4 linked regions of the Homo sapiens genome follow. The protein of the gene in region 3 purifies or fractionates together with the protein of the main gene of each other region. This does not show direct contact. Each region holds a gene or a part of one and is shown on either strand. Other genes may lie near its edges. The genes, in order: DPF3, SS18, ARID2 and SMARCA2.

Region 1 (7,724 bases), on a different chromosome or scaffold from region 3:
CTTTATTTTTTTAAAAATAACTTGTTTAATAAAACATCTTATATATTTCATTTGTTTTTAAAAGTTGCTGATCAGGAAACAATACACACGTGAATAAATTATGCATGGGATAAATTAGAACAAAGTGCAGAGACACATCCAGCCGAAGGGATGGTGGTGGTGCAGGGAGGAGGGGTAGCGGGGAGAATGGTTTGGAGAGCTATGTTTTTATCCTCATGTGTCCCTCCTGACAATGAAACAGAGCTGAACGACATTAGCATTTTCTCTGTGTGCGTTCTGAGTCTCTCTCTTCCCTCCAAAAAAAAAAAAGCCAACACCACGGACGTCTCCTACAGAAAATGGTCACACAAAGGTTTCCTCAGGATGGGGGGATAAAGTGGTGGTAGTTAATGTGTTGGGAAGAAACAAGCTCAGATTTCCAGCAGCACCTATGCAGGGCTCTGCCTACGCTGAGTATGGGCTATTTTTCACTGTACTAGCTTTTTCCACGTGGGACATTCAATAATTCAATTAGCTGGGGTGATGGGATGGCACAATTTTGAATCTCATTGCTTTGGGGTTTTCCTTAGGGTCCCAAGCTCCTGAAGCCACATCTCCTCTCTTAGCAATTTGGCTTTCTTCCTGCCTGTCTTTGATCTCCCCTCAACTCCCTTTCTTTTTCTTCCTTGTTGTACCCTTCACCCCCTTCCTCTCTGAAGCTGACAGCCCAGCTTCTCTCTCTGTTGTCGCCTTTAACATCTTATTACTGCCCAACAGGGTGTTAGAGGCAGAAATAGGAGCCGCCTGCACTGATCAGATCACAAAGGGGACACGGCAGGTGGCCCCCACAACCAAGCAGTCACATCTGGACAAATAGAATTCAAAAGCACTGGTGGACATGTATGATGTGTAAATGTGTATTACATATTATTTAATTTAGCAGCTACATTGTCTGAGCAAAGATGTATGAGAGTTACCCTCATTTCTTACATATACAAGCGAGATAAGGCCCAGGTAGTGAAGTAAACACATGCAGGTAACATAAATATGGATTTGATAAAGGCCTGCATGTAGATTAGTCACGTTCTGGTTGATTTGTGCATACCTGGGAAACATAATGCTATTATTATTATTATTATTATCATTATTTTTTGAGACAGGGTGTTGCTCTGTTGCCCAGGCTGGAGTGCAGCAGCAGGATCTTGGCTCACTGCAACCTCTGCCTCCTGGGTTCAAGTGATTCTTGTGCCTTAGCCTCCAGAGTAGCTGGGATTACAGGCGCGCACCACTACACCTGGCTAATTTTTGTGTTTTTTAGTGGAGACGGGGTTTCTCCATCTTGGCCAGCTGGTCTCAAACTCGTGGCCTCAAGTGATCTGCCTGCCTTGGCCTCCCAAAGTGCTGGGATTATAGGAGTGAGCCACGATGTCTGGCCACATAATGCTTTTAATATAAATTTGAATCTTAATATTCTAGTTCAGATAAACCACCTTCCCCCAAATCTGCAATCAGTACTTTAAACAACTTACTCTTGTATTATCAAAATCCTGGTTGGTATGCATTTAACTGAGAATGTCTGCCACCTTCTGCCAGACTTGATTATACACATATATGTCTATTATTATAATTGCCTACTTAGAAAAAAATTATTATTATTAAATTCCATATGAACCAACAGGGCTTTACCTTAAGTAATTATTTATAAAGAGACCCATAAACTATTTTGTCATGCTTATAACTGTGAACACACACATATACGTGATTGTATTGAAACTTTCTTTTGTAAGGAGTTAACCTTGCTTGGAGGTATGTGTTTATGTCCCTGTTTTGTTGTTAAGAACACTACTCTGGGAGAAGAAAATAAACTTACTTAGCCAAGTCAAACAGCAGGTCATGTGTGTAGATGAACGTCAAATCTAGATCTCTTTGTGCATTCTATGACCTGTATTAGTGTATTCTAATCTAAAGTGGTTTTGTGCATGTGAAAGTTAGAAGCCAGACCTCACTCTTGCTGTGGCACTCAGTTTAGATATCAGAGGGGAAGGGGTGGGGGTCACATTCCTGGTTCTAATCTCCTCTTAGCTCTTTCTGTCGAGGTTGGGGGGATGTGGGTAGGTACTAAGTAGACAGCATTGAGGCCGGGACTTTGTGAACTTGCTGCCTTTTATGGACATTGTTTTAGCTTCTTATGAAAAAGGACCCTCGGACGTTGTAAGCCAACAGATTCCCAAGAACCTGTTCTCCATCTGCTTCTGGTTGCCACTATAAAAAAGCCCTAAATTCTCCAAACCTCATTAGCACACATTATTTTTCAATGGGTAAATGTCTGCTTTTGATGAGACACCTATGATGGAGATTAATGTCTGCGAGAACCCAAGTGGAGGCATTGTCACAGGGTAAACCTCTGAAAATAGCCTGGTCTGCAGGCCTCCCGGGAGACATTGAAGACTGCCAGTTGAATGGGAGCTGCTTAGTCACATAAGGTGGGCTTGAATTCAGAGACAGCTGAGTTGGAGACCTCTCATCCTCCTCTTTTTGGAATCATGCAGGTAGCTGGAATTTGGATACATCTGAGAAAGACCATAATGTCTAAAGCTGTTTCAGAGCCATCTGTTCAGATCAATGCAAAAAATAAAATGTCATGGTCAGCATGTTTTGTTTTGATCATGCACCAGAAAAAGAATGGAAACTGAGGCTGATGTTTCAGTTTTCTAAGGCAGCTATGCTGACAGTAGTGGCGATGGGGGCTGGGTCATAAAGAGGCACCAGAATCCAGGCCTGTTTATTATCCCAACCTCTGCAAAGTAACTTTTGTGGTTTTTGAGTGTTTTGAAAGTCACTAGAAAACAGAAATGTAGCCAAATGTTGCAAACCTCTGGCCAAAAAAATCCCACAACCACTGAAATATTTTTTGCCCAGCTACGACCCAACAGGGGAATTTGTAAGCATGGCCCTAATTTTAAATAGTCTTTAAATATGAAGGTAGTTAACAAGGAAAGATGGAGAGTGGCCTTGGGTAGGGGGAGGATGGAGGAGTGGGTAAAACCACTGTGTGGTATGGAACTCTGCAAAGATTGTTGTTGAACTGCAAGAGAGACTGATATTGTGATCCATTGCAAATTCCAAAGTTTTCTAGTTGTTTGAGTGACTGGGGAGAGATGAGGTGTTGTAGTGTTTTTGTAATTTGTTTTTCTTATTGGTCCGGTTACTGGTGTTTCACAGTCTGTCAAACCATATGGATGAATGGAGCTAGCATCGTAAAACTGTCACTGAGGGAAGGTTTTTGAAGCCTGTGATTTGCATTAGAGTTTTAAAAGCAGTGGTTAGGAGGTGTTGGTGGGGCAGAGGGAAGAGGAGCAGACTGGAGAATTTCTAGGCTGTGTGTTTGTGAATATTAGTGTGGCAGGCAGTGGCAAGGGAAGGGAGAGAATCCCTGAAGAGGTTACAATTTAGGGGCAATGTGTGGAAGCAGGGAGGGGTGAGAGGATTAGGTTCAGAGCTCCTAATAATGGGGTTCAAATAGCCCGCATTGAGTCCTCACCAGCCAGGCCTCAGTTCTGAGCCTGCGGAACAATGCTGGCACATGTCTAATCCCCACTTTGCACCCTCTCCTCCCTCTCTGAATCTGGGGACTGTGATCATCTCAGGTTGCTGATAAAAGGTTTTTTTTTAGTTGTTGTTATTCACCTTGAAAATCTGCTGTTTGAATGATCTGCACTTGGAAGCTCCACCAGAAAGTTTTTCCCATCCTCACACTTTCACCTGCTATTGATGAAACCCGTCTCAACCTCTTTTCCTCTTCCATGTTCATTTCTCACCAGTGGCTGATTTTTTGTAGCCTTAGTGACTTCAGAGTAATGGAGGAGAAAAAGCTCTGGGAGAGGAATCCCAAGCCTTGAGCTCCGCTTCCAGAGCTACAGGCAACTAGCTTGTGATCTGGGACACAGAACTTTGAGCCGCATATTCCTTGTCTTTATGATGGTGATGTACTTTGATTCCCCAAATTCCTTTCAAGCCAACAACTTTCTGGCTCTTATTATGGTGGATTAGGACAGAGAGGACAGCTAGGGGCCAGAGTTCTGATTTTTTCTTATTTTTAAAGTGTGGCTCTAAAGAGAACATTTAAGACTGGAGACTTCCACAGTTTCTTATTCTCTGATTCAGTCTTGCTACATGGTGCTCCCTTCTTGGGGTTCTAAGCTGGGTGGAACTTCCTATCCCTTCTCAAGGTCTGAGGCTGAGGACCAGGTGGTGGGCCATTTAGAATGTGGGCTTTTCCTCTGGCTCTTCCTTTTCAGTGATTTTCTTCTCACTAGCATCCCATCCAGAAGCTGATGAGAATGAGGAACTTGAAGACCAATTGGCCTATTTTGACGTGGATAAGCACTCAGTTTTTGGTGGTTAAAAGACTGGAATCACTGAGAACATCTGTATTTTGCTTCCTTTTGTGTGTGTGTGTGTGTGTGTGTGTGTGTGTGTGTGTGTGTGTGTTTGGAGGCAGAAGGGTAACCAATTTTCCAGCCAGTCCTCCGGTCTGGACTTTATTTGTCCATGATCTCTCTGGCCTTCTCCTCTACCATGGCACCTATCCCAATTAATCTGAAAATAAAGTGCTTATTTTATTTTAATTTGGGCAGCCACAGATACCTGGATGTTTAGTGAGCTGAAGTAAGTGGACCTGTACTGATGTCTCACTGAGCTTCCTCTAGCATACCTGTGTTACTGCTGAGGAAATGGAGGTGCCCAGCAGTTGTGTGGAACTAGCCCCTACCTGAGTGGGTATTAGCCAAGACTAGACTGGACTTCATGCCTCCCCTTCAGTGACATGTCTCCAGAACATCTCAGATTTCAGTGGGGACATTATTATCAGGCTTTTCTTTGGTGGAAAGCTTCCATGGCAGTTTTTTTGCAAGCATAAAGAGAAGGGGGAGGAGGTTGCAGAACTCATCAGAGTCTACACAGGAGCTGGTGTGTAAATTCTGAGACTTTAAAGAGAAAACAAAATGGTCACCCTGACCTCCAGCAGAGAGAGGCATTCCCTCAATTTTTCTTTATTGTGCTAAAATATACATAACACACAGTGTACCATTTTAGCCATTTTAAAGTGTGCATTTCAGTGGCATTAAGTACATTTATTTCTAATCTTTAGTAGAGATGGAGGTCTTGCTATGTTGCTCAGACTGGTCTTGAAATCATGGCCCCAAGGGATCCTCCCACCTTGTGCAACCATCACCACCATCAGTTTCCAGACCCTTTTCTTTCTTTCTTTTTTTAGATGGAGTCTCGCTCTGTCACCCAGGCTGGAGTGCAGTGACGCGATCTTGGCTCACTGCAACCTCCGCCTCCCAGGTTCAAGTGATTCTCTTGTCTCAGTCTCCCGAGTAGCTGGGACTGTAGGCATGCGCCATTACACCTGGCTAATTTTTGTATTTTTAGTAGAGACAGCATTTCACCATGTTGGCCAGGCTCGTCTCGAACTCCTGACCTCAGATGATCCACCCGCCTCAGCTTCCCAAAGTGCTGGGATTATAGGCATGAGCCACCGTGCCCAGCTGCCCAGACCCTTTTCATCATCCCGGAGAGAAACTTTGTATGCATTAAACAATACTTTTCCATCCCCTGCTTCCTACCATCCCTGGGAACCACCATTCTGCATTCTTAGCACCCCATATCAGGGGAAACATACAATATTTGTTCTTCTGTGTCTGGCTTATTTCACTTAGCATAATGTCTTCAATGTTTGTTCATCCATGTTGTAGCATAGTCAGAACTTGATTCCTTTCTATGGCCATTGTATGGATAGCCCACTTTTTGTTTACCTGTTTAACTGCCGATGGGCATTTGGGTTGTTTCACCTTTTGGCTGTTTTTGAGTCCCCATTTTCATTTCTTTTGGGTTTTCACTATGCCTAGGTCTCCTTCATTTTTGGACTGTAAAATCTAGGGACTAAGCTAGGCTCATGCCTGTAATCTTAGCACTTTGGGAGGCTGAGGCAGGAGGATCCCTTGAGCTCAGGCATTCAAGACCAGCCTGGACATATCATGAGACCCTGTCGCTACAAAAAATAAAAAAAAAAGCCGGGTGTGGTGGTGTACACCTGTGGTCCTAGCTACTCGGGAGGCTAAGGCAGGAAGATGGCTTGAGCCCGGGAGGTTGAGGCTGCAGTGAGCTGTGATCACGCTACTGTACTCCATGTACTCCAGCCTGGGTGACAGAGCAAGACCTTATCTCAAAAAACAAACAAACAAACAAACAAACAAACAAACAAACAAACCCAAAAAATTAGCGGCTACATTTCTAGATAATATAGGCATTCTCCACCTTATAAACTAAACAAACAAAAAAACCCAAACCTAATAGTATTACAGAATTCAACCTCTCTGCCTCTCCCTCTATTGGTAGTCCATTGCGTTCTGGGATAAACACACTGGGAACTAGGAACCCAGAGACTCAATTCTCCCATCCCCAGCCACAGGGATTGCCTTCCCCTCATATCCCCCTTCCTGTTTTTTTTTTTTGAGACGGAGTCTCGCTCTGTCGCCCAGGCTGGAGTGCAGTGTCGCGATCTCGGCTCACTGCAAGCTCCACCTCCCGGGTTCACGCCATTCCCCATTCCCCGGGCTCAGCCTCCCGAGTAGCTGGGACTGCAGGCGCCCGCCTTACGCCCGGCTAATATATATATATATATATATATATATATATAGTATTTTTAGTAGAGACGGGGTTTCACCGTGTTAGCCAGGACGGTCTCGATCTCCTGACCTCGTGATCCGCCCGCCTCGGCCTCCCAAAGTGCTGGGATTACAGGCGTGAGCCACCGTGCCCAGCCTATATCCCCCTTCCTTTGAGGGCAGGGACTCCTCGTGGGGGTCAGGGTTTGGGTTTGAGGCAGTTCCAGGGGCTGTAGCACTAGCAGTTACCTGGTGAGGCTTGGAGTGAAGGCTTCCTAGGTGGATGGAGATGTGATGTCTGACAACAGGAGGTGGGTGGAAGCACGGTGATGACAGGATAGCTTGGGGGGCAGGAGTTAGCAAGTCAGGCCTGTCCTTCCAAACAGCCAGGAGAGCTTGTGTCTCCCTTCTCCTCCCTTCCCCTTCCTCCAGCCTGGCTTCCCCGCAGCGGCCCACATGAAATAATGGATGTGGAAACATTTCAGAAGGTGGAAAGTGCAAATGTGAGGTGTTACTATGAGAACTAAAAGTTTCCTGTAGCTGATCATGGCCTCCTCAGGCAGTCAATAATACCTACTATATTAAACATTATTTTAAATATTAAAACAAAAATAAATGTTTCTGGCATTACCCATCACATCTAATCATTGTTTCTCAGGAAATGCAAGGTCTACTCATCCAGGCTGTGTAAATAGCCCTGGGATCTCAGTGGGATTTTCCTATTGTCTGGGTTTGAAATAAGTGAGAATGTGAGCTCAGGGGAAACCCTCATTTCATTTCCGGTCATAGCCCTGACCTGAGTTCACCCACCAAACCAGAGGAAGCAGAAGCGCGGTTGGTAGAGTGGGGTGCTCTTCTGGGAACTTGGGCCTTTGGTCCTTGCCTGGTCTCTGGCTCCTCCTTCAACTGAGATGACTGAGGGAGAGAGAAGAAGTGGAGGCGGGGCAGGGGCTTAGATCTGCTTGTGAATAAGGAGAGTGAGCTGTTGGCATTGGAGGTCAGTGGCAAGAATGGATTCTTTTTCTTTTTCTTTTTTTTTTTTTTTTGAGACAGAGTCTCACTCTGTCGCCTAGG
Region 2 (7,724 bases), on a different chromosome or scaffold from region 3:
AATTAAGTTTTCCTTTGGTATGTGAAGTACTAGGAGGTTACCTTGAATCTATTAAAGGTTGGTTATAAGACTTTTTAGGGCTGATCTATTTCAATTTCGACCTTACTCTTAAGGAGTAGCTGGCCCTTCTGTAGTCTCAACAGAGAGTTGGAGTTATTTATGAAGGCTCCTCTAACTTGGTGGGGCCTACACTCCAGTCTTTGTCTCCATATCAGTGAGCAGCAGCTGGAATCTCTGCTGAGCTCTTTAGCCTCCTACCTGCTATTTCGACTAGTTTTCTTGAATGTTTCCCCTCTTGTGGTCCTTTCTCTCTGGAAATTTATTCTTTAGTTTCCAGCTCTTTGATAGTCAAAAATTCTGACTCTTTTTTTTCCTTAGTCCAATTGGACTGCACTTTCTACTTGAGCTGTATTTCCCTGTTACTCAGCAAACTCAAGGAAAAAGCCAAGATAATTGTGGAGCTGGTCTTATATGCTTCCGTTCTTTCAGGAGTTGTAGCCCCTTCTGTTCCTCTTTGTGTAAGTCACTCTTTAGTGGCTTCAAACAGTTTTTACTTTTTGTCTAGATTTTATGAGTTTTATTTAGCTGAGGGTTAGTTTGATACAAGTTATTCTAGCATGGTGGTAACAGTAATGATGTTTTATTAGTTGAATTACAAGAAAATGACCTCACTATTAAGAGTGAGAACATGAATTTTTAACAGAAAATTTGGACAAGAATAGAGGAAGGAGGATTTCTGTTTTCAGACAGAAGAGGGTTAAGGTAGCCAGGTTTGAAGGATGATAAATAAGGATGATTAAAAGTTAGATAATATGACTCAAATTAGTGTTTTTTGTTTGTTTTTTTGTTTGTTTTGGTGAAAACTGAACAAGGTTTTTAAGTGTTTAAAGAATACAAGTTGGAGAAATAATATGAGAATTTAAGAGAAAATAAGAGCATTCATCTGGATTTAGTTGTGAAGAAATTAAAATTCTGATTTTAAAATGTGTGCTATTAGAGTAGACTTGTTTATTTCTGTAAATGTTAGTGATTATTAACTGTTTGGAGGTTTGAGTATTTAAATGTGATGGCCAAATAACAATGTGTATCTATTAAGTGTGCCAAAGAGAATTGTGTTCACAAAATGGAAAGGCATACAGTAACTGGCCATTTTTAAATGTAGGAGGAAGAGAACAACTGATAATACAGGAATGGACATTACATTTAGAACATCGAAGTAAAGAATAATGCCTCCCTCTCCTCCTACAAGATTAAAAATGGGGGATTGGAGCGAAACTAACCGTTTGCTTTCTCCACCAAAATATCCCTAAGAAGGGACCCAGGTGTGGCAGACCACCTCATATCTGTTTTTCCTTTTGCCCTTTTGTGAACTCTGAAGGTTAGTCAGTGGTTTTCTTCAAAATTGCATTAGGAAATTTGCCAAGGGCATCCTTTTGAGGCAGCTGTCTCTGTACCCTTGGAGGCCATCAGTAATGTTTCCAATCTATAGCAGTAGTCGGCACAAAAATGTTGAACTGTTGTCTTCATGTTTTAAAACATTCCTCTGCTGCCACTATCCTCCACCCCGAAATAGTGTAAAATATGGCACATTTTGGGACTTAGAGTCCTTTCATCATTTTTTGTTACTGTACATTTTTAGGTAAAATCCATCATTAATAAGTGTATCCAATACATCAATAATGAAAGGACATTTAATTTTTTTCACATAATTTAGATAATAATAGACACATTAGAAATGCTTAATATATAAATAAATGAGAATTTTTTGTATAGAATGTTAACATTTTAATTTTCACTACTGAGATTTTATAAAGTAAATATGCTTTAAAGTTTTGGGGGTTATTAACTATGTTCATGATGAAAATGCATTAGAAGAATTCGAAATGCATTTGTGTTTTTGTTCTTACTGCAATTTAGTAACATAAGCAACTCTTTTACCCTATGCATCTTTCGTATATTAGTCTGTTTCTCTTGTTTTACTAAACTGTCTTCTTTCAGCCACCCACACAGAATATGCCTATGGGTCCTGGAGGGATGAATCAGAGCGGCCCTCCCCCACCTCCACGCTCTCACAACATGCCTTCAGATGGAATGGTAGGTGGGGGTCCTCCTGCACCGCACATGCAGAACCAGATGAACGGCCAGATGCCTGGTAAGTTTTTCTCCTCTAAGACATTAACACCAGAGTTGCTTAGCAACTGAAACGACATGGGGGCTCAAGGGATACTAGATTGTTGATGACAAAACTGCTTTGAATGCCCCCGAGTACAAGCTCTCTTAGAGTTTGTTAGCTACAGAGCTACGTGACCTGTATTCAGTGTTTATCAGGCTGCCCTTGGGCTTTGATGTAGCTGACACACACCATTCCTCTGATGAACAGAACTGGCTAAATTTAGTCTGTCTGAAACTGCAATACAGTTGGCTTTAGAAGCTTTTTGGAAAAAAAGGCGTTGCACCATGGCTTAAGAATTAAAGTCTGTTTAAAAAAGATATTATAACATTTCCCTGAGTTTTTATTTACTTAAATATTGATTGATCTCAGAAACAGTATCACTGGGAAAAACACATGGGGAAAGAAAACAGTCTCTGAAGTGCTGGTGTATTTAGTATTTCCTTATTGATATTGAAGCTGAATCTAAATTTTTTTAATACATAGGTTTATAGCATAACATAAATATTGGAATTGATTTTAAAGCAAAAATTAAAGGCTGAAAAATAATGTAAACTTCCTTACATTATTTATACACTGAGCCATTCTCTTTTCTATTTGTCAATTTTAAGTGTAGGGTCACTAGGTTGATATGTTTTAAGACATTGGATGCTGATTTAGTTACCTTTGGCTGGTTTGAAATTTTAATCATACAAGTATCTTTACACTATTTTGTTTTTGTAACAGTAGCATCAACCCATGGCCGTAATTTTTGGTAGAATATTATCTACATTAGGTATCAGAATATTTTTACCTTCTAAGACAAAAGTTATTTTCATTGATAAAGAAGACATTATACAACTAGCAGTAATGGAAATAAAATAACAGAACAATTATTAAAATTAGTAATTGGCATCTTTAGGATACTGTTTTCTGTAGCCGATTGTGTTGATTGATAGCATTGGTGTCCAAGGATGATGGGTGCAGTAAGGAAACAAGAGAGCACAGAGCAAAAGAGGTAAGGTAGCCTGGCTTATAGAAGATTGAGGTGTGACTGATCATATAGGAGGGCAGTGGTGTTTCAGTGGCTGTCTCCTATTTCCTGCTAAGGCTTGCAACATATATGGCACACATCCAGTATGGAGGTAGGAATAAAGACATCACTGCTTTTCAGTTTGTAGTCATATTGTAGTCAAGAGAAAGCTTCTTGCCAAGTCCACATTTAGTTCACCAGGACACACTGTTTTTAGAACTGGAAAGGTAGTGATAGTGCAGGTTAGCTAGTTAGGAGTTTTGTGACTTTTTATGATGGTACTTTGAATTAGGATTTTGACTTAAATTCTCTGTGTAACATTGAAGCCTAAGGCCAAAGAAGCATTTGAGCAGCAGTACAGTTATGGTTAACATGACATTTTGGTTTTGTGTAAGGCCTTCTGAAGTATATTCTTTTATAAGCTAGTTATTATCAACCACTTATGACCTGGGTTGTTCAGAATACTATAGAGCTTCCGAAACAATAGTTAAGAATTTCTCCAGGCCAGGCGCGGTGGCTCACGCCTGTAATCCCAGCACTTTGGGAGGCCAAGGCGGGTGGATCACGAGGTCAAGAGATTGAGACCATCCTGGCCAACATGATGAAATCCCGTCTCTACTAAAAATACAAAAAATTAGCTGGACGTGGTATTGCACGTCTGTAATCCCAGCTACTCAGGAGGCTGAGGCAGGAGAATCACTTGAACCCAGGAGGCGGAGGTTGCAGTGAGCCGAAATCACGCCACTGCACCCCAGCCTGGCGACAGAGTGAGACTCCATCAAAAAAAAAAAACAAAAAAAAAAAAAACAGAAAGAATTTCTCCTAACAATAGTTACGGAGTTACAGTTAAGTGTAGGAGAAATTGGAAGGCCAGTAACTTATATTTTCTTTATTTGTTCCTTATAGCATTTAGCCAACCTGTTTATGCACACAAATTTGCATCTTGGCTGTTTCCTATTTCAGTTTGGTTTTTAATGTATATTTCATTATGTAGACTCAGTTTTAGAGCTACTTATGTTCTCATTGATCTGGGTCAAATCACTACTCAGTCTCAGGTTCCCTTTTTTAAAAATTACTATTTTTTTCTTTTTGAGACAGAGTTTTGCTCTTGTCGCCTAGGTTGGGGTGCAGTGGCACAATCTCGGCTCACTGCAACCTCTGCCTCCCGGGTTCAAGCGATTCTCCTGCCTCATCCTCCCGAGTAGCTGGGATTACAGGCGCACACCACCACACCTGGCTAATTTTCGTATTTTTAATAGAGATGGGGTTTCACCATGTTGGCCAGGCTGGTCTCAAATTCCTGACATCAGGTGATCCACCCGCTTCAGCCTCCCAAAGTGCTGGGATTGCAGGCATGAGCCACCGAGTCCAGCCTAAAAAATTAATTGATTTTTTAAAAGCTAGGTAATACATGCCTATGGGACCAAAATCAAAGGATACCAAAGGATGCCTAGCCGCCACCTCTCCAGACAGTTCTAGAGAGGCATTGGTTTCTAGTTGTCCTTCAAGAGATATTCTCTCGCTGGGCATGGTGGCTCAAGCCTGTAATCCCAGCACTTTGGGAGGCTGAGGTGGGTGGATCAGTTGAGGTCAGGAGTTCAAGACCAGCCTGACCAGTGAGGTTAAACCTCATCTCTACTAAAAATACAAAATTAGCTGGCGTGGTGGCACACACTTGTAATCCCAGCTACTTGGGAAGCTGAGACAGGAGAATCGCTTGAACCCGGGAAGTGGAGGTTGCAGTAAACCAAGATTGCACCATTGCACTCTAGCCTGGGCAACAAGAATGAGACTCCGTCTCAAAAAAAAAAAAAAGAGAGAGAGATTTTCTCTATATAAAATAATGCATGTGTATTTCCTTTATTTTTACTCTTTTTTTTTAAAGTACAAATGATAGCACTCATTAAATACTATTATGTATCTTTTCTTTCTCAAAGATATATCTTGGAGACCATTATTTTATTCCATATGTAAATAGATGCCTTATTCTTTTTGGTCTCTATCATGTTCTTTTTTACAAGTTTAATTTATTCGAACATTTAGGATGGAAACATAGGCTTCTAGTCTTTTGTTATTATGAATTATACTGTCATGAATTTGCTGTAAAAATATATATACACATATATATGTGTTCTGTGTGTCAATACGCATGCACACAAAAATTTGTATATCTCTAGCATAAATTCCTGGAACTGAAATTGCTGGGTTAAAGGTATATATATTTTAAAATTTGACAGTTAGTGCCAAATTGCTTTGTGTAAAAATAGTAATATCCATCAGTTCTGCATTTATGAATTTCACATCCATGGATTTAACCAACAGTGGATTGAAAATACTTGGAAAAACAAATTGTGACTGTATTGAACATGTACATACTTTTTTTTTCTTGTCATTATTCCCTAAACAACACAGTATAGTGACTATGTACATAGCATTTACATTGTGTTAGGCAGTACATGTAATGTAGAGATGATTTAAAGTATATGAGAGGATGTACATAGGTTATGTGGAAATACTGTGTCATTTTATGTCAGGGACATGAGCATTTACGGATTTTGAAATCTGTGGGTGGTTCTGGAACCAATCTCCCACAGATACTGAGGGACAACTACTTTATTTGAATTGTTGTTTGTCATCACAAATTTCCTCAAGCTTGATCCCACCCTTGATTCCACAAGCTTGATTCCCCATGAAATATAAGTAAGATTTCTGTTCCTTCAACAATGGATGAAAGTGCTTCTTTCTTCACAATATAGTTAGATCGAACTTTTGATTTTTGAGAATCTGAGAGGTGAAAGTTCGGTCTCATAGTTTTAATTTGCCTTCCTATTTTAAGTGAAGCAATCAATCTTTTAATGTTGATGAACCTTTTTGTAGTTTTTGTGTGAACTAGTCATTCCCTCATTATGTCCTTTGCCCATTCTTTTACTGGTGGTGGTCTTTTACTTACTTCATATGTTAAGTAATTAATTTGGTCTGGGTCTGCGATCTATCTTATAAATAATATTTTCTTATTTACCTTTTTATTATTTAATTTTGAGTTTTTTATGTCGTGCAAATTTTTAAATTTTGTATAGTCTAATTTATCAATGTTTTATGGCTCAGGGTTTTCTGGCATACTTAAGAAGGTCCTTCCATTATTATTTTTAAAATTCTCCTTTTTGAAATTCTTTTATGGTTTCTTCTTTTTAAATGTTTAAGTTTTCTATTCATCTAGAATTAGTTAGTGGAACAAATGAGATAGTGATCCAACTTGTTTTTTCCAGATGGCTCCCCAGTTGTCACAATACCATTTACTGAATTAGTTTTCTATTGCTCACTAATACTTAATATTACTGTGATTATTTACTCAGCTATGTATTTGGGTCTACTTTTAGACTCTGTTCTGTTCAATCGATCTGTTAGTCTATTCATTTATGTTCATAGTTAATTACTCCAACCTTATGATATGTTTTGCTCTTTTATGAAGAAGCTAGTCCTTCCTTCTTTTTCAGAGTGCTCCTGACTTCAAAAGCATCAATTTCTTAATCCAAAAATGGGAATAACTACTTCACAGTATTTGCTGTCTTTTCCTATAAACCATTTACTTTGCTATCGATTAATTATTGTTTGGTATTACTATAATAATGCAAAAAAAAAATTATTTCCAGGTACTTTTGTATGGACCATCTGTTTAACTTTCATATTTTGCTTCTGATCATTTTTCTTCAAAGGGCCTAACCATATGCCTATGCAGGGACCTGGACCCAATCAACTCAATATGACAAACAGTTCCATGAATATGCCTTCAAGTAGCCATGGATCCATGGGAGGTTACAACCATTCTGTGCCATCATCACAGAGCATGCCAGTACAGAATCAGATGACAATGAGTCAGGGACAACCAATGGGAAACTATGGTCCCAGACCAAATATGAGTATGCAGCCAAACCAAGGTAACTAAGCTTTATGTCCTTCTTGACTAGAGTGCTCTATTAGCCTTTGAAAAGTAAAATGATTGTTGTCAGGTTCTTAGCTGGTTCATAAAAATAAAAGTTTAAAGTGAGTGACAGTCATGCCCATAAAAAGGAGATGTTGAGTTTGAAGCTAGTTTAAATCTCTTTGCTCAATGTAGCTTTTTAAGCTTATTTATTTTTATGTCTTTTGGACAGTTTGTTTGAGGTTCTGTATTGTTGAGAATTGTTTTTTAAAGCCAGTCAATGAAGAACCAAACATTTGGTTTAGCTAGAAAGTTGAGAAAATAAACACCTGCTCCTTCATTTTACTTATTAAGGATGTATTAATTTATATGAATTCCCCTTGATTTATATGGATGTTTTCTGATGCTGTGTTTCAGCATTAAAAGGTAATTCTAAAATAATTTGCCATTAGAATGTTCAGTGGAGGTGCTGCTGTACTTGTCTTAGAGTGGTGTAAGTCCATTAAAGTTTATTACCAATCTCAGAATGAAATTGTACCATGTTTCTCTTTTAAGTATTCTGTGAATAATAACTAAAAGCCAGTAAGTGGCGCTCTGTTCTGCTAATTGACTGTTAAAACATT
Region 3 (7,562 bases):
GCAACAATTTCCACTGTTATTGGTAATTTTTTAATAGGAACACTTTCCATTAATGCTTGAAAACTACGAACTACATTTTATTTTATATCTTGTCAAATTAGTTGGAGAATATCTATTGTAAAGCTGTCAGCACATCTCTAACATTACTTTGTCAGGATCCACCTGCTCTATGCTGCCCACTATAGGAAATGCAATATGGTAATAAGAAATGTAATAGAAGGTTACTTTAGTACAATCTCATAAAAAACATACTCTGACTCTACTTGGATGCTAAATGTGGTGTTTTTGCAAGAGATACAGACTGATTAGTGGCAATCAAATTTATTAACTGTAAAGGACATCAATAAGAACAGACAGGACCAGAAATTGTATCTTGGTGATCCACATGCCAGGAGTAGCGCGGCAGAGGATGGAGAGTGGAACTTAGCGATTGAGGCGCAGCCTGCAGAAAGCTGCACTTCTGCACTAGAGATTAAATAAGAGGGTCAAAATCAACATAAACTAAACCCTTTTTCAAAGTCATGTAAACACAAATGATTGCTGCAACTGGAAAACAACATTGAAAATAAATGATTCGTGTGATGCATATCGATTTCAACAAACCTTTCCTTAAACCTTTAACGTTACTCTTACAAGCAAATACCGTTAATAGCTTACTTCTGTCTTAATTTTTCTAACCACAGGAAAATTGAAACATAAGTAATCTGATAAACATCAAGTTTTACGTTGATGCTTTTGACCACAGGGTATATACAGTGTTAAGAATTTAAATTCTATCCATCAGATATACTTTAGGACTCCATTTTGAAGATAGCCTCTTCTACAGAAAAGAAATTTTTAAAAGTCAATTCTCCAGTTTCTCATCACATCTTAATTTTTTTAAAAAGGCTTTTAAACACTAGTATCACTCCAAGTCTTTAGCCTTTGATACTTGCTCTGAAAACACACTATCGTATGTTTGTGTATGTACACACACACACACAACAGTGACTTAAAAGTGGCAACCGCCTCTTGAAAAGTAAAAATATGTCATCCCTCCATTCTGCCCTTAAATGAGAAATAAAGACAATAGATTTGCCCACTGCAGACTGGGATACCAGAAAAGACGTTCTAAGTCTCGCCTGAGACAATATTAACCTGCTATCTTAAGTCCCAACTTGGATGACTTAAATTTCAGTGTACGTGCCTCCGTTCCCACTCTTGCCCCATCAGCTCCATCAGCATCGTCATCCCCGGCTCGGATCCCGGCCGCGACCCGCCAGGGCCGCCGGAGTCCGCGAATACCGCCCGCTCCCAGCAACGAAGCTCCCCGGCTCCCGGCCGACCGCGAGTTCCTGGAGCAGCAGCCTCCAAGGTTCCCAAAGCCCACGATTCAGGCGAGCGGTGCCGACCGGGCCGTGGACTGTGGCATTTTAAAACTACAGAAGTCTCACTGCACGACTGGCGCGGCCGAGGTGGCCCAGGAGACCCTCCAAGAGATTCTGGTCAGCTGCCGGGAGCGTGGAAGAGCAACCAAAGCCACCAAGGCGCCGCGCCAAGTCCCCGGAGCAGTCACCTCAGCTTTCCGTTCTCCCTCTAGTTACAATTACTCCACAGGCTTCTGGCGCTTCCTTCGAGAAAATGAAAAACTAAAAACGCGTAGAGGTGGTAGAAGTCGTTGGCATTTTCCGTTTAATGTGATCCCCCAGGCTCCATCCCTTAAGTGGGGTTTCCAAACTCGGATGCATCCTCAGCAGAGGTTTTCCATGTTGACAGATCTCTCGCCTCCCACAAAATGGGGCCGGGGAGGCGGCCGCGGTCTCCTCTATGGGCGCCGCCATTTTGTGAGGCGGCGGCGGCGCGGCGGCAGGAGCCCGGGGTGTGTATAATGGTTGAATAGAATGACCCCCTCCAGGGAATCCCCGGCACTGACGGTTACGTAAGGGGCTGTGCGCAAGTGCGGCGTTTAGGGAATCCGCACAGCCCGGGCCACGCAGCTCCGAGGCCCACATCTCCACTTCCCCTAAGAGGACCGATGGGGGAAGGGACAGCTGACCGGGTCTTCCTCGCAGCAGCCTCACCCCTAGTCTTCCGCGGCCGGCGAGCTTCTCCACCTCCCCGGGCCGGGTCTCCGCCCCTCACAGGCTTCCGAGACACTCACTGGCCCTGGGTTGTCAGGATCTTCCTAGCCACAACCTTATTCCGACCCCACTTAAGAGACAAACTTTAGTTGGGAAATAAGTCCGTTTCCTAGAGTGAGCACCGGAAGCAAGCTGCACTATATTACATAATTTTTCACCTCCAAAGCAATGTTCCCATTGGAACGACTACCTGAAATAACCCATCCAGACCCCTACTACCCTGTGACCTTGGGTTAGGCAGTGACTTTGCCCGTGGTGGCCGTCACTAAAATGGGAATAATAATACGTTTCACGTACTGTAATCTTAATTAACATTTGTAGCAAAGAGCCGGCTCCAACACCCCTCGTAAATGCAAATTTAGGTGGTAGTATTTGTTGAGATGTTTTGACTCATTTAAGCAAAGGGTTTTTTTAACCTTCAAAATATTTTAAACGAGGATTACATTTAAGACATTTGAAAGCAAGGAAAAACGTTTTATTCGGTATTTATTTTAAACGCAGCAATCTTGAAGAGACCTTACTATAAAAATGTAAACCTTAATTATTATTGTCGAAGTTCGATAGATTGCTTCCCAACCAGTTTAGTTAGTTTGCATAACTTTGCTCATAGAATACTCCAGTTTGATATGTGAAGCCAACCAGCGGCAAGATGAATTAAGAGCATTACTCTATTTCCACAGAACTAGGACAGACAGTTCACATTGTATTTAACGTATAGTTTGCTAAAGTTAGCGTGTGGATAATTCATAGAAAATGTGCTAACCAGGCCCCAAAATACTAGCATACGGCTCATAAAAGCCGATTCCTTTAGATTTTACAAAAACAGAAGGTAACAAATTGACTTTATTCCGATCTGTGAATGTTGCGTAGCGTGAGGGGCTACCCCGGTGAGCTTCCTTTCCCTTCAGAGCGCCACACCGGTTCTGTCGGGCGGGCGGGGACTCCGAGGCGGCCCTTCCAACAGCCGGGCCGGGGACGCGAACATCGCCTCCACCCCTAACCCTGGAACAACCGGTAGTGGCCGTTTCCCCGCACCGCCCCCCTTTCCGCCGGCTTTGTGTGCGTGTGAAATGTGCGGCACATTGCAGACGAACCCTAAGCCCGGCGAGTCGAGTCTATTGTTCCCCGCGAGGATCTGCCGGGGCGGTGTGGAGCCAGGCGCAGTGCCGCGGCCAGCCCTCGGGGGTCGCTGTGTGGCACTGGCTGCCAGGCCGTGGCGGCGGCAGAGAGGGAGGCTGGCGGGGAGGGAAGCAGGCGGGCGGCGCGCAGCGGCTCAGCTGCCGCCGGTGCTTCTGCCCGGGGACGCCCCGGCCTCAGCGGCCGAGGCCGCGCGTGAATGTGTGCGAGGGCCCCGCGGAGCCGGGGCCGAAATACACGCTGTCACCGCGCTTTCCACAAACCACCACACAGACCTCCCCCTCCCCACCCCCAGCCCCGCCTGCCCTAGCCCCGCCGCCGCCGCCGCCGAAACTCTTGGGCCTCTGGCCGCCCAGACCCCTCACCATCGGCTCGCCTTGCCCGTCGCCCGCTCGCGCGCCCCCGGCAGCAGCACCATGTTGAATCGCGTCCCCGGGCTGAGCTGCCTCAGCCGGCGGCGCTGAGAGGCGGGCGAGAGCCGGGCCACGGGGAGGGAGGGAAGGAAGGGGTGGGGGCCGCGCTCGCCCCGCGGCTTCGCGCGGATCCGGCAGTCGCCTGCCCTTCTAGTTTCGCTCCGATTTCTTTAAACTTTTTTAGAAATTCCCCTCCCTCCTTCCCTCCTCTCCCCCTGGCCTCCTGCTCCCTCCTTCCCCTCCTCCTCCTCCTCCCCCTCCCTCCCTCCCTCCCTGCGCCGCCGCCGCCGCCGCCGCCGCCGCCGCCGCCGCCACCGCCGGCCCATGACTGAGCCCCGCCGCCGCCGGCCGAGGAATGGGCTCCGGGCTCTGGTAGGAAGCGCTGGGAGCGGGGGGCGCTTTTAAAACACCGATCTGGGTTTTTTAAAAACCTCCTTTGAAAAAATAATGGCAAACTCGACGGGGAAGGCGCCTCCGGACGAGCGGAGAAAGGGACTCGCTTTCCTGGACGAGCTGCGGCAGTTCCACCACAGCAGAGGGTGAGAGCAGAACCGGGGGGGCAGCGCCGGGGCGAGCCGGGGCGAACGGGGCTCTCCCGCCCGGGCCGGGCACGGGGTCCCGGCTGACAAGTGCGGGGCTTTTTCTCTCCCGCAGGTCGCCTTTTAAAAAAATCCCTGCGGTGGGTGGGAAGGAGCTGGATCTTCACGGTCTCTACACCAGAGTCACTACTTTAGGCGGATTCGCGAAGGTGAGTGGAAGTTTTAATTTGTATTTCCCTCTCGCTGGCCTCCTCCAAAAAGTCTCCTTTGACCCCGGAGTGGGCGCTTGGGGCTGGGGGGGTGGCCCGCGGGGGCAAAAGGCGTTCTTTTCGCTCCCAGCCGGTGGCACGGAGGCGGACGGCGGCGGGGCTGTTTTTGGCCTGGTGGCTCGCGTGCGCGCGGCGGGCGCGGGGCTCCGGCGGGCGGGCGGCCCGGCGCCGGCTCGCGCCCTGCCCGGTGCCCGGTCGGGCCGGCGGGGTCTGAGCGCCGCGGCGGGGAATGCGGGCGTGCGGGGCGCCAGCCTGAGCCCCGCGCCCGCCCCGCTCCCGCGCCGCCCGCCCGCTCGCTCGCGAGTCAGCTCTGCCGCCGCTGCCGCTCTAGCACAGGCGGAGACACACAGAGACACACAGACTCTGAGAGCAGTTTTCGTGCAACTCAAAATTAGCGCGGGCAGGTTTAACATCGATAATCGGCTGCGAAATAATCCCGGCAGCCGGGGGCACAGCCTCGGCCCCGTCGCCCTCGGTTTATACAGCTAACAAAAGAAACCAGGACCTGTCTCCAAATAGCCATCTTAGGCTTCAAGGCTAGGCAGAAGCTGTAGGCCTCAAAGAAGGGCCTATGGAGATGGATAGATCTGGGAGAGGGATCGGAATCGGCCCCAGCCCCGGCCCCCCCCCCAACCCGCGGACGTCGCTGTCCGGAACTGTATTGATCCTTTTGAACTTTTTTTTTTTTTTTTTTTTTTAGTGTAAACGGACCGCGTTGAGATTTAAAAGGGGGCGACAGAGGGACTTGCGATTGGTTATTGTCCGGGCTTCAAAAACAAAACAAACCCACCAAACCCCCCCACCCCCAAACAAAACAAGTGGTATTAAATACAGGGCTCTCTGGTGAAAACACAGTGATTCAAGAAGCCCTTGCTTAGTAACTCTTACCGATCGATCCGAAACACCCACTGATGCCTTAGGTATCTACAGATCTCTGTAGAATGGGTATTTATTTCATAGTTAGGTTAAGATTTTCTTAGATTGTTCACGTTCAGACAACTGTGCCTGTGTTTTACCAGGTTTCTGAGAAGAATCAGTGGGGAGAAATTGTTGAAGAGTTCAACTTTCCCAGAAGTTGTTCTAACGCTGCCTTTGCTTTAAAACAGTATTACTTGCGGTGAGTAGTAGTGACTTTTCCATAGTATTTGGAAATAAGGGACTTATGGAGAGATTTGTTTTTAGCAAAAACAAAAGCAAACCTTGCACACCAAACAGTTCTTAAGCTCTTGTTCATTTCAGACTGAGACACATTTAATATAAATAAAGTGAGATTGTAGGAAGGTGAAAGTCTTCCTCACCAATTTCAGGATCGTTTACATTTTTCATACAAAATCATTACAGGTGACACCCCAGCCCCAATCTTGGTAAACATTCTTTTGTGACATTGTTATTCATCGCTTGATACCCACTGAGGGGCAGAAAGGTGATGCTTAGTAAAAGACTTAAGATAGTTAATGAAACTTTGTAACCTTTGGGAAAATTTTTTTCTTTGTTTTGGAAACTCCTTTAGTTTTAAAAATTCTGGCTTTAAGAATTTTTTTTTTTTAATGAAACTTCTTGTTTGGAACAGTGTCATTGAATAGGTTTTTCAGTAGAATATTCCTACATGGCATAACATGTTGGTGGCTTAGGTGACCAGGATTGTTTTGATAATTACTTTTTGTTGAATTTCCAGTGACTTAAATTAGTAATTTAAATTAGATAATTTAAATTATTATATCTTTAGGAAAATGGGGATACTATGAAATGGGATACTATAATCTGGATTTTCTTTCATTCTCCCTCTTCTTCTTTGACTGCTTATTCGGCAAAGTTTAATTTCTTATTCAGTTGGTATGTGATACAGTCTAGATGATATATTTTGTGATTTAGCGTTTTTTTTTTTGCCTCTAGTTTTTCTTCTAGGAATACTTTCATACTGTAATTTATCATGATGCTGTGTTTTATTTTTAAAGTGCTTATCTTAGAGGATCCTAAGTTAGTTGGTGTTATTAAAAACTAAAATGATATTCTTTGTATTTATTGCTTTTTAATAGTGATAGTACAGGCCTTTTTTTGTAAGGTGGCTTCTGCATAATTTGAGTTTTGCATTTATTATTGCTTCAGATGCACTCAGTTATTGTGTATTACGTTCAGCATTCTGAAATAGGAAATGCAGTAATCGCACAGGTGTACTTTCTATTGGCTATCTTAGATTGACTTCAGGCTTGAAGCTGGAGTTCGCAGAACTTTGTGGAGTAGTTATTGAGTTACACAGGAAGTCTAGAAAATATTAAATATGGTTGTCATCTATTGTGTGTGTGTGATGGCATTTGTGTCAGAGTACATTTTAAATTAAAGGGCTAAATCAAAAAGCAAAATTAACCTCCAAAACCGTTGAGTTAGTAGTGGGGTGAGAAACAAGAGAGTTTTATATTCATCGTGACATTCATTTGCTCATTTCTATTTATGATATTGAGAGGAACATGTTAATACATATTCTGGTTTTATGTTTTTATCAGTTTAAAGCATTTGAATTTTGGACTGTTTGAAATACATATTTTTGAAGTTTTGCTTCATATTTGTTAGATTGATTGACTTAAGTTTTATAACCAGAAAGTACTATAGAATATACATGATTCATGAGATGTATATTTTTCTGAAGAGTTTACATTCATACTAATAGTTTTAGCATAATCAAATTAATATCTAGGCTTCCAATTTTTTTTAACAAAAGTTAATTATAAATATTGTTTTTCCAGTTGTCATTTTTATCTTGGGAGGATATCATTAATTATAGGTACTGTTTTTAACTATATAGTTTCAACATTGTAAGTATTTACATGGTCTTCAGATCAAATTGGGCTTTTTGCTCTTATTAGAAGCTGCTTTTTGAACTATGTCCTTAGTTAAACTTGTTTTTCCTCCATATGTCACTCTCTAGGTTTGTTTTTGCAGGGTTGTAGCTAGGCTACTAGGAAAAAAGTTGAAGCATTTGTTTTGGAAAATAAAACCATGTGAAGATTTGCATGGCTTGTAAAGAAATACAAAAGAAATATGCTGGTCAAAACTTAGGTACTACCAACCTTGAAAGAATTTTTTCCT
Region 4 (7,724 bases), on a different chromosome or scaffold from region 3:
TGTTAGGAGAAGGAGGGAGTTTCCCGTTGTCACAGAAAAGAACGACCTGTTCCACAACTATGTGTCTGTGGCTAAAAACATAATGACAAAAATGTATCTGGGGAGAGGGGGGCACAGCAACCTCCCCATACACATGCATTGCTGGTCCCCACCCTCCCCCAGACCAGGACTCCCCGAGGGCCAAACCACTATGTTCTTAGGCAAGAATTTCTCAGCAGTATACTCTGTCTTGATTTCGTCCTTACTTCCCACTTTCCTACATTCACAACTAGAGAGTGTGTGTTTTTAAAAAGAAGAGGCCCCAGAGGAGCTTGCCAGAGCTCCAAACACCACAGTCATCCTCCCTCAGCCCAAATCTCCTCTGCCCTTAGCTGAAAGGCTCAGCACAGCCATCTGCATATTAAAAGGAGTTCAACTTCATGGAATTTTAAGGGTCACCACTCCAACCATGACAAAACTTGTGTCTTACAGTCTAATTGTAACCAACAGAAACACCAAAGACCCCCACATGTGGAGTAATATTTGAACACACCTACATGTGTTTCCTAATAATTCTGGTGATTTGAAGAGACATTTTGCCACAACGCCATTGAAAAGATGAGGGCAATAAGGCAGAAGGGGAAAACATGGCTTGCCCAAAGTAACATCTGCAACAGGAGAGAAACCGCAGGCAGAATCTTTTATCCCTTGACTCCCAGCCCAACACTGAGCTATGACACGGATCTAGCAAGCCATGTTTCCACCAGAGTTTTCACCAGGCCAGAGCAATGTGCAGGGGTAGAAAGTAGAAGCCAAAGAAAAAAAGGTCAGAAACAGTGGAAGGGATATCTTGCAAGGACTAGGCTTTGGTTGTGATAATATATTAACTTACCACAGGCTAGAGAAGTAAAGAGAAGCCCTGGAATGTGAAAAGAAGACCATGTCATCAACTGAAAAGGTCGATGATGTTTTAGTTACCATACCGAGTATCTACTAGGTACAAGGCATGCAGGCGGTACAAAAATGAATAGAAGGCTTACCCCACAACTCTGGAAGTCTGATACGGAAATCAGACTTGTGCGTAAGTAGCAACAAGATAAAAATATTGAAAGATCCTGCAGGACACGGAGGGGTACAGCCAAACTATCCAACACAGTCATAGAATGGGAGACATTACCTTTAGCTCAGAGGTTACAGGAGAGAAAGGAATTAGGTAAAGTGTAATGGAGAAGGTAGCATTTCAGCAAGGCCTTCAAGTTTAAAAAAAAGAAAAAAAGTTCCCTAGAAACTTTTGGTTTCTAGTCGCAGAGTTTGGGGCAGCACACCAACCTTGACAATATCTCTTAAATTGCTCTTCACCAAACTTCATAAGAAAGCACAAGGAAATCTTGGATCTCCAGCCTGTCTTTTTTCACAGCTCACTTTACAGAAAAACTTGGAGGTCCAGGTTAAAGGTGGAATATCAGAAATAAAAGTTAGGCCCAGTCCACATCTCCAAGAATATCCCAGTCTTATTAAAGTGTTCTGGCTGTTACAGGAGAACTGCAAGGTTCAGGAGATAGTTAAGATAAGAGTTCTTTTTATGTCTGTTTGCTGATTCAGAACATCTCCCCTGACCTGAAGGGCTGCCTCTTGTTTTGTATGTGGCTTTCTCTGTAAATGAATTGATAATTCACCCACAAGAAGTAGCAACATCTTCAGAACTGGGCCTCAAGCACTGTTATTCTTAATGGGGAAGCAGTGCGGGGTGGGTAAGGAGAACAGCAATGCAGATAAAGGAAATAAATCTACCCGAAGTTTCCTTTTTACAGGCCAAGGTTGTCGGGATAAGCGGTGAAACATTACCAAGGCCCACACTGCTTCTTGGTCTGAGCTGTGCAACTTTAAACAATGCATAATGTGATCTGTCAGATACAAATCACACCGGGTTCTAAAGTTAACCTTATAAGTTGCTCCATCAAGACCCTAGAAAATCACTGAGAACATTTCTTCAGCATTCTTGGGGTTATTCACAACACTTTCCCATTCGTTTCAAAGTCAAATATGTTTTTTAAAAGTTGTTAGATTAAAACTTTGCTCTGTTCCTTGGGCTTCTGTGAACTCTCCTTCATCTTTCAATCAGGGCAACAAATTAGGATGTGGGTGAGCTGCTACCCTCACTTTAAATAAACTGCCTTGGGAATGGTCCTTGCCCAGAGTCAGACCTGGCAAAGGCTGTGAGGCAGCTCTGTGCACAACAAAAGATAACAACAAACTCGGCAGCAGCTAATTAGTCCCCCATGAACCTCAGACACTGCCTTAATAGGATCCTGGCTCTTAACATTACCACCCTTATAGATACCATGAGTTGCCATCTCAAAAGAGTCTACCAGCGATGCAATTTCATGGCCTCTTCCATGAGGACTGACAGTGATCCCACAAAGGAAAAATTGTTTTAAAAAGGGAATTTACGAGAAAACCTAAGTGTTAGAAACCCTTTAGAGCAAAGCATCCTCTACTCTGAGACTCATGTCCATTAGTAGTTATAAAGGTAATCACAGATGAAAATCACTTTTAAAATTCAGTGGAACCCAAAGGGCTGGGCAAACTGGTCAAAACAAAAGCTAACAAACTGAACAAAAAAAAGTTAGTTTCAAATCATGACACCCTGAAAGGTAATATGTCACGTATATTTACACATATGCCTGTCTCTCCTAGGTTAGGCCCTTTTGCAAAGCAACCTCATTCTGGATGTTGATAAGAATCAACAACAGCCACTTCCTTTTCTGACTGCCAAGATAAGTTTATTTATACTTTAAACATATAAAAAGAAGAGTCTGAAATACATACTTTAAAAACCTGTGGTTAAAATGGCACATTTTTACTGAAGAGTAAAACTCAACCATCATATGCTGAATGAACTAAAGTTCTATCATAGGCACTCATTAATGTCAACTGGCCCTGACTTTCACAGTAGCAACAACAATTCAACAATGAACTCCAAGTTCATTGCAGTTAAAATGGATAATAGCCATTAATGATGTTACTATGCCTTTTAAAAAATCAACAAATGAGTTCATTTAACCTCTCTGAGTTTCAAGCTCCTTACCTACAAAATAGGCATAACAGTAGCTGACTACAACTTCAATTTTGATACGAATCAAATAAAATATGAGATATGAAGACACCTTGTGAGCTACTATATGCTCGCATTATTGCCAGGATCCTTCTAACAGCTTCAATTCCCACTCTGGACTTGAATCCACAATTTGCCAGATTAATCTAAAATATTGCTTTGTTCATGTATTCCCTTGTTCAAAACTTCTGAGACAAGCCTCCAATACAGATTGGATAAAATATTCATGCTTTAACCTGCAAGTCAAGTCTTTCCACAATCTCCGACTTTATCTTCTGAAAATTCTCCCCAACTGGAACTTCTTGCTCCAGGCAACCGGTCAAAACAGGTACATTGGTCTTTCCACGTTCCTTCAGGCCGGGTCTCTGTGATCTCGCCGGGTCTCTGTGATCTCGGGGCTTTCTTCTGATCTGGGATGCTCAGATGCCACCACCCCCACCTCTGCCCTCCCCCTACAGCAACCTTATCCCATCTCAAAGACCTTATCTACCCCATCAGCTCAAGAAAGCTCACCCTGATCTCTCTCTCTGTATCACATGGCCCATGCAGTTTACCATTTGTTACTTGTATTCAATATGCTATTATAAATACAATATTAAATGTTCAGGTACATTCTTTAAGACACATAAATTATCAATTACAGATCATCTATTTTTTACAGAATTTTGGACTCTGCTTAATGGTCTTTTAGTATAGCACAACAGCAAGCCACAAAATAATTGTGACTATTTGCAAAGCCATTTATTACATGTCCAGTTCAACAAAGCACAGGGGGGAAGATGGGAGAGGGCTTTCCTTCTGGACATCCAATATCCATGTGTGATAAAGCATCTCCCAGTGGGATGGTAAAAACTGAAATATACCACATCAAGTAGGTAAAGAAATATATAATCATCCTGAACCAGAAAAATACAGTTTAAGTGCAAACTGATACAGAATTTCCCTTGGATAACCTGTAAGCCAACATATGACGTTCCTTTTTGGTTAGAGATTTTTATCATTTTTAAGTAATTTTGAATTCCAAATTCTGAGTTTAGTTGTTTTTGTTTTTTTTAAAGGAGGGAGTTTCAATTATATTTAATGGTTTTCAAACTTTAAATATTATTTCAACTTCTGTGGGTCCCATTCATCAACTTACAAAAGGGCCAGCCCATATTTAAATTAGGCCAGTTTCTAAAAAGTTTCTAAAATATTACTGCTTGCATAGATGTAGATGACATACTGGCATAAGATTGATGCTTAAATTGATACTAATCCACCTAAAAATACTATAGAATATTGTGGTTTTAAAAACTGTTGTAAATCTTACAGGTATACGGCCAGATTACAATTGTTCAAATATTCTGGAAGTCGTAGCTATCTAATAAAATATCCTAATTCATACTAGGCTTCAATTATATAATAATGTATTACAAACCCAGAAGTCCAGAAGGACATTATGTCAGAGTTTCAGGCCAAAATCTTGTATTCCATATCTAAACCATCACTCCAAATGTGTAAATTAATGAGGTGTTTATATCAAACATTCAAAAGACCAGCTATTTTGTTCCTGAATTTCATTGGCTCTATTGTATGTTTTTCTGAGGTACAATTATTCAAGCATCTTTGACGATATATTTATAACTTTTACTACTTAAAAGCTCTCTTTAACATATCCTACACTTTCAAGGAAAAGTGCTATATTAACATGGGTAATAATAAACTCATAATAAACAGTAAGAAAGCTGCAGTTTTGCCAGCCCAGGTTGCAAGATCCCATTTAACTTAATGATAAATATCTTACGTAAATAAATATGCTCTCTTTCATAATGACTCTGGCAGAACATAGTTTTAGACTCCTATAGTCCCTAGTAAGTATAAAGTCATAAGTTTCTATATAGAAAAAATAATCACTCCAGGCCTTCCTAAATATGCTATCAAATAAATTACCACCATGTGTATTTTCTATTCACTACTTAGCGAATGACCCATGGCTTTATTAACCGGCTAAAGGTTAGAGTCCCCTAATAAGAACGCTTCCAAAAATGACAGAAAATTCACATCCTCTATTGGCCAAAGACATCTCCAAAACACAATATTTAAGGGGGAAAAAAAAACAATTTAGAAGATAATTCTTTTACATTAAAAAGGAGAAATCAGAAATAGCCCCTAAATGTGGCTTTCATACTAGGGAAATTTTCTCATCTGTTCACAAGAAATACAGCAGAAAAGAAATGTAACTCATATAGTTTTCTAAGGTAACTCAAGTTAACCAAAGAATTTGTCCCTATCGTCCCTTAAATCATCTTGACCAGAAACAGAATCAAATCTTAAAGTGGTTAAATCAGGTCCTACCAACACTCCTTCCACTTGCAAATGCTGGGAAACAGTCCTTAGTATTACATATGTGATAATTCAGTTGTCCTCATGGCACCATGTCAAGATGTCATAAATAGTGATTTATTATTTCTCTGGGGTATCAAAAAGCTGCTGACCTAGAAGAGTTTGACAAAGGCCTTGTTTACAAAGGAAGATTTCTAAAGGAGAAAAAAAAAAAACAAGAAAACACTGGAGGACAGCACCACTTTTATAATTTATAAAACTCTTCTTTTTATGCTCTTGCTGTAATACATAATAATAAATGTCAAAATATTACAACAATATAAGGAGCATCACAATTACCTTTTAGAAAAGGATGTGATATGCTTTTATACTGGCCTGTAGAATGATTTATCTTAAACTTAATAAAAGAAAAAAATTTTAAATACTTATCTGCACAAGTGTCACTTTCTAGTTATACCATGTCAGGAATACTTTAAATAGAATTCAAGCATTAACAATATAATACAAGCCGAGGCACTTTTTTTTTTTTTTTTTTGTCAATTCTAAGCCTCAGGTGTTGGTCAAAGCACTTTTCAAGAAACTTGACGAGAAATGCTCAAAAACCACTTTACAAACGAACAAAAGAAAAGATCTAAGGCTGCTTTGAACATGCTCTTGTGGTGAATATTTTCTGTGAAACACCACAGTGCACCTAGTCCTGATGCTGGGCTGTTACTGATATAAGTCATAAGAGAAAGGCTGCATTGAAGGAAGCCCTCCCTCCCCTCACCCTCTTCAAGGGTTCTGATACCCCACATTCCTCATTCATTTGAAATGTTCTTTACAAAAATGGCATCTCTCTGATGCCCCCAAGGTAGACGGACCTCTGATCTACTGGGTTGTTTTTTTTTTTCCCCTCAGTCTACCGCAATAAGTATCTTTTGGACCTAACAGGTGTCTCTAAATCCCCTCTTTACAATAGCAAACATTTGCATTGTAAAGAAGCATTTGAGGAAAAAAAGAAAGAAAGTCCAAGAGAATAAAAGAGCAATTAGATTCCTCAAAGAAAAAGTGTGTCTCATTTTGCATAACAATGCAGCAACTAGGATTCAAATCTGCCACGCCTCTTAACACTTCACCAGTGTGCTAGAGGTAGCCTGGAAGCCTAAAACTCCAATGCTGGCCAACAAGCTTCTGGTTGTGGCCCCCCTGATAACAGATGGAAAATACTACTGAAAATATTTGAATGTGAATATGTAAGTATACACACACATAACATTGGGTATGGCTTTTTAAATTATTATTAGGGTTCTCAATGGTTTCTGAGTCTTTGGTGGTTGGATAGAAATTTTCTGCTACTCAACGCCCAAGCAACAATCTCATTATTTATGCAAGCATTCTGTTCAGACAAGCAAGGCACACAACCAGGTGTAAATTTTAAGTCCTTTGAAATGGAAGTTTGAAATTCGATATTGGTAACGCAGAAATGTTAAAAATAACCGCTCAGTGCAGTCAACAAACTGTGTATCCTTAATGTCTTCCTTGAGCTCTAACAGTACACATACAAAGTCATACATGCCTACATAATGACCAGAAAGGAGACAATGATGACACCTCTCCAAAAGATTACTAGCCCAGGTCGCTTTGCTTTTTCCAAAGCACCAACCTCCATCAGGTTAGGGAGGAGGAAAAAAAAGAGACAACCTTGCAAAACTCACCCAAAAGTTATATAAACAAAGGAGGGGAGAAGCCCAGTCTAGGCTTTGCACCCATGTGCCACTAAAATTACATAACACCCGGTGCAGACATTGAATAAGGAATGGATTCTGCACAACACCCCCACTCCCTCGATTCCCAAGCCTTCCTCATTCCCTTAAAAAATCCAAACGCCTAGCAAGAGCTAGTGGACGACTTTGAATATTTATTTTATTGCTGGAGTAAAACCTGCGAGAGTTGGAGGTACGTTTAGGCCCGAAGTTTGAATGTGCAACAGCCCCGGGCGCAGCGACTCACACTCTCCGGACCCGGAGGAGAAAGAACTGACAAGCAACAGCGGCCAGCAAGGCCTTCTTCCCCCTCATGGTGCCTCCCGCTGGAAAGTTTTCCACGCAATCGATCGGAGGACAAGGAGCCCATTTCCCCCGCCTGCCTGACTTTGCAGGAAAGGCGAGCCGGGAGACCGGAGGGGGCTGGCAGGGAAAGAACTGGAAAGCTCCGCACACAGCCGGCGGCAGGGCTGCGCAGGCTCCTTACCTGGAGGACGCGGAACAAAAAGGGGCGCGGGGTTCGCGGAGCTTGGGGTGGCGGCGCGGCCGGCGGACGGGAACCG

The links.
Region 1: the proteins of ARID2 (region 3) and DPF3 purify together in Homo sapiens (affinity purification with mass spectrometry; 4 studies listed by BioGRID and IntAct, with this or other methods). This does not show direct contact.
Region 2: the proteins of ARID2 (region 3) and SS18 purify together in Homo sapiens (affinity purification with mass spectrometry; 4 studies listed by BioGRID and IntAct, with this or other methods). This does not show direct contact.
Region 4: the proteins of ARID2 (region 3) and SMARCA2 purify together in Homo sapiens (affinity purification with mass spectrometry; 2 studies listed by BioGRID). This does not show direct contact.

What each region holds. Positions count from the first base shown.
Region 1 is NC_000014.9:72,883,899-72,891,622, reverse strand, and holds part of DPF3 (zinc finger protein DPF3), read left to right. Parts: intron 1-7,724. UniProt on the Homo sapiens protein: Belongs to the neuron-specific chromatin remodeling complex (nBAF complex).
Region 2 is NC_000018.10:26,052,017-26,059,740, reverse strand, and holds part of SS18 (protein SSXT), read left to right. Parts: intron 1-1,998; coding exon 1,999-2,152; intron 2,153-6,895; coding exon 6,896-7,117; intron 7,118-7,724. UniProt on the Homo sapiens protein: Appears to function synergistically with RBM14 as a transcriptional coactivator. Isoform 1 and isoform 2 function in nuclear receptor coactivation. Isoform 1 and isoform 2 function in general transcriptional coactivation.
Region 3 is NC_000012.12:45,725,720-45,733,281, forward strand, and holds the start of ARID2 (AT-rich interactive domain-containing protein 2), read left to right. Parts: upstream 1-3,986; 5' UTR 3,987-4,117; coding exon 4,118-4,209; intron 4,210-4,324; coding exon 4,325-4,418; intron 4,419-5,497; coding exon 5,498-5,595; intron 5,596-7,562. UniProt on the Homo sapiens protein: Involved in transcriptional activation and repression of select genes by chromatin remodeling (alteration of DNA-nucleosome topology). Required for the stability of the SWI/SNF chromatin remodeling complex SWI/SNF-B (PBAF).
Region 4 is NC_000009.12:2,017,724-2,025,447, reverse strand, and holds part of SMARCA2 (SWI/SNF-related matrix-associated actin-dependent regulator of chromatin subfamily A member 2), read right to left. Parts: intron 3,504-7,724; exon of another isoform or gene 3,331-3,503; intron 1-3,330. UniProt on the Homo sapiens protein: ATPase involved in transcriptional activation and repression of select genes by chromatin remodeling (alteration of DNA-nucleosome topology).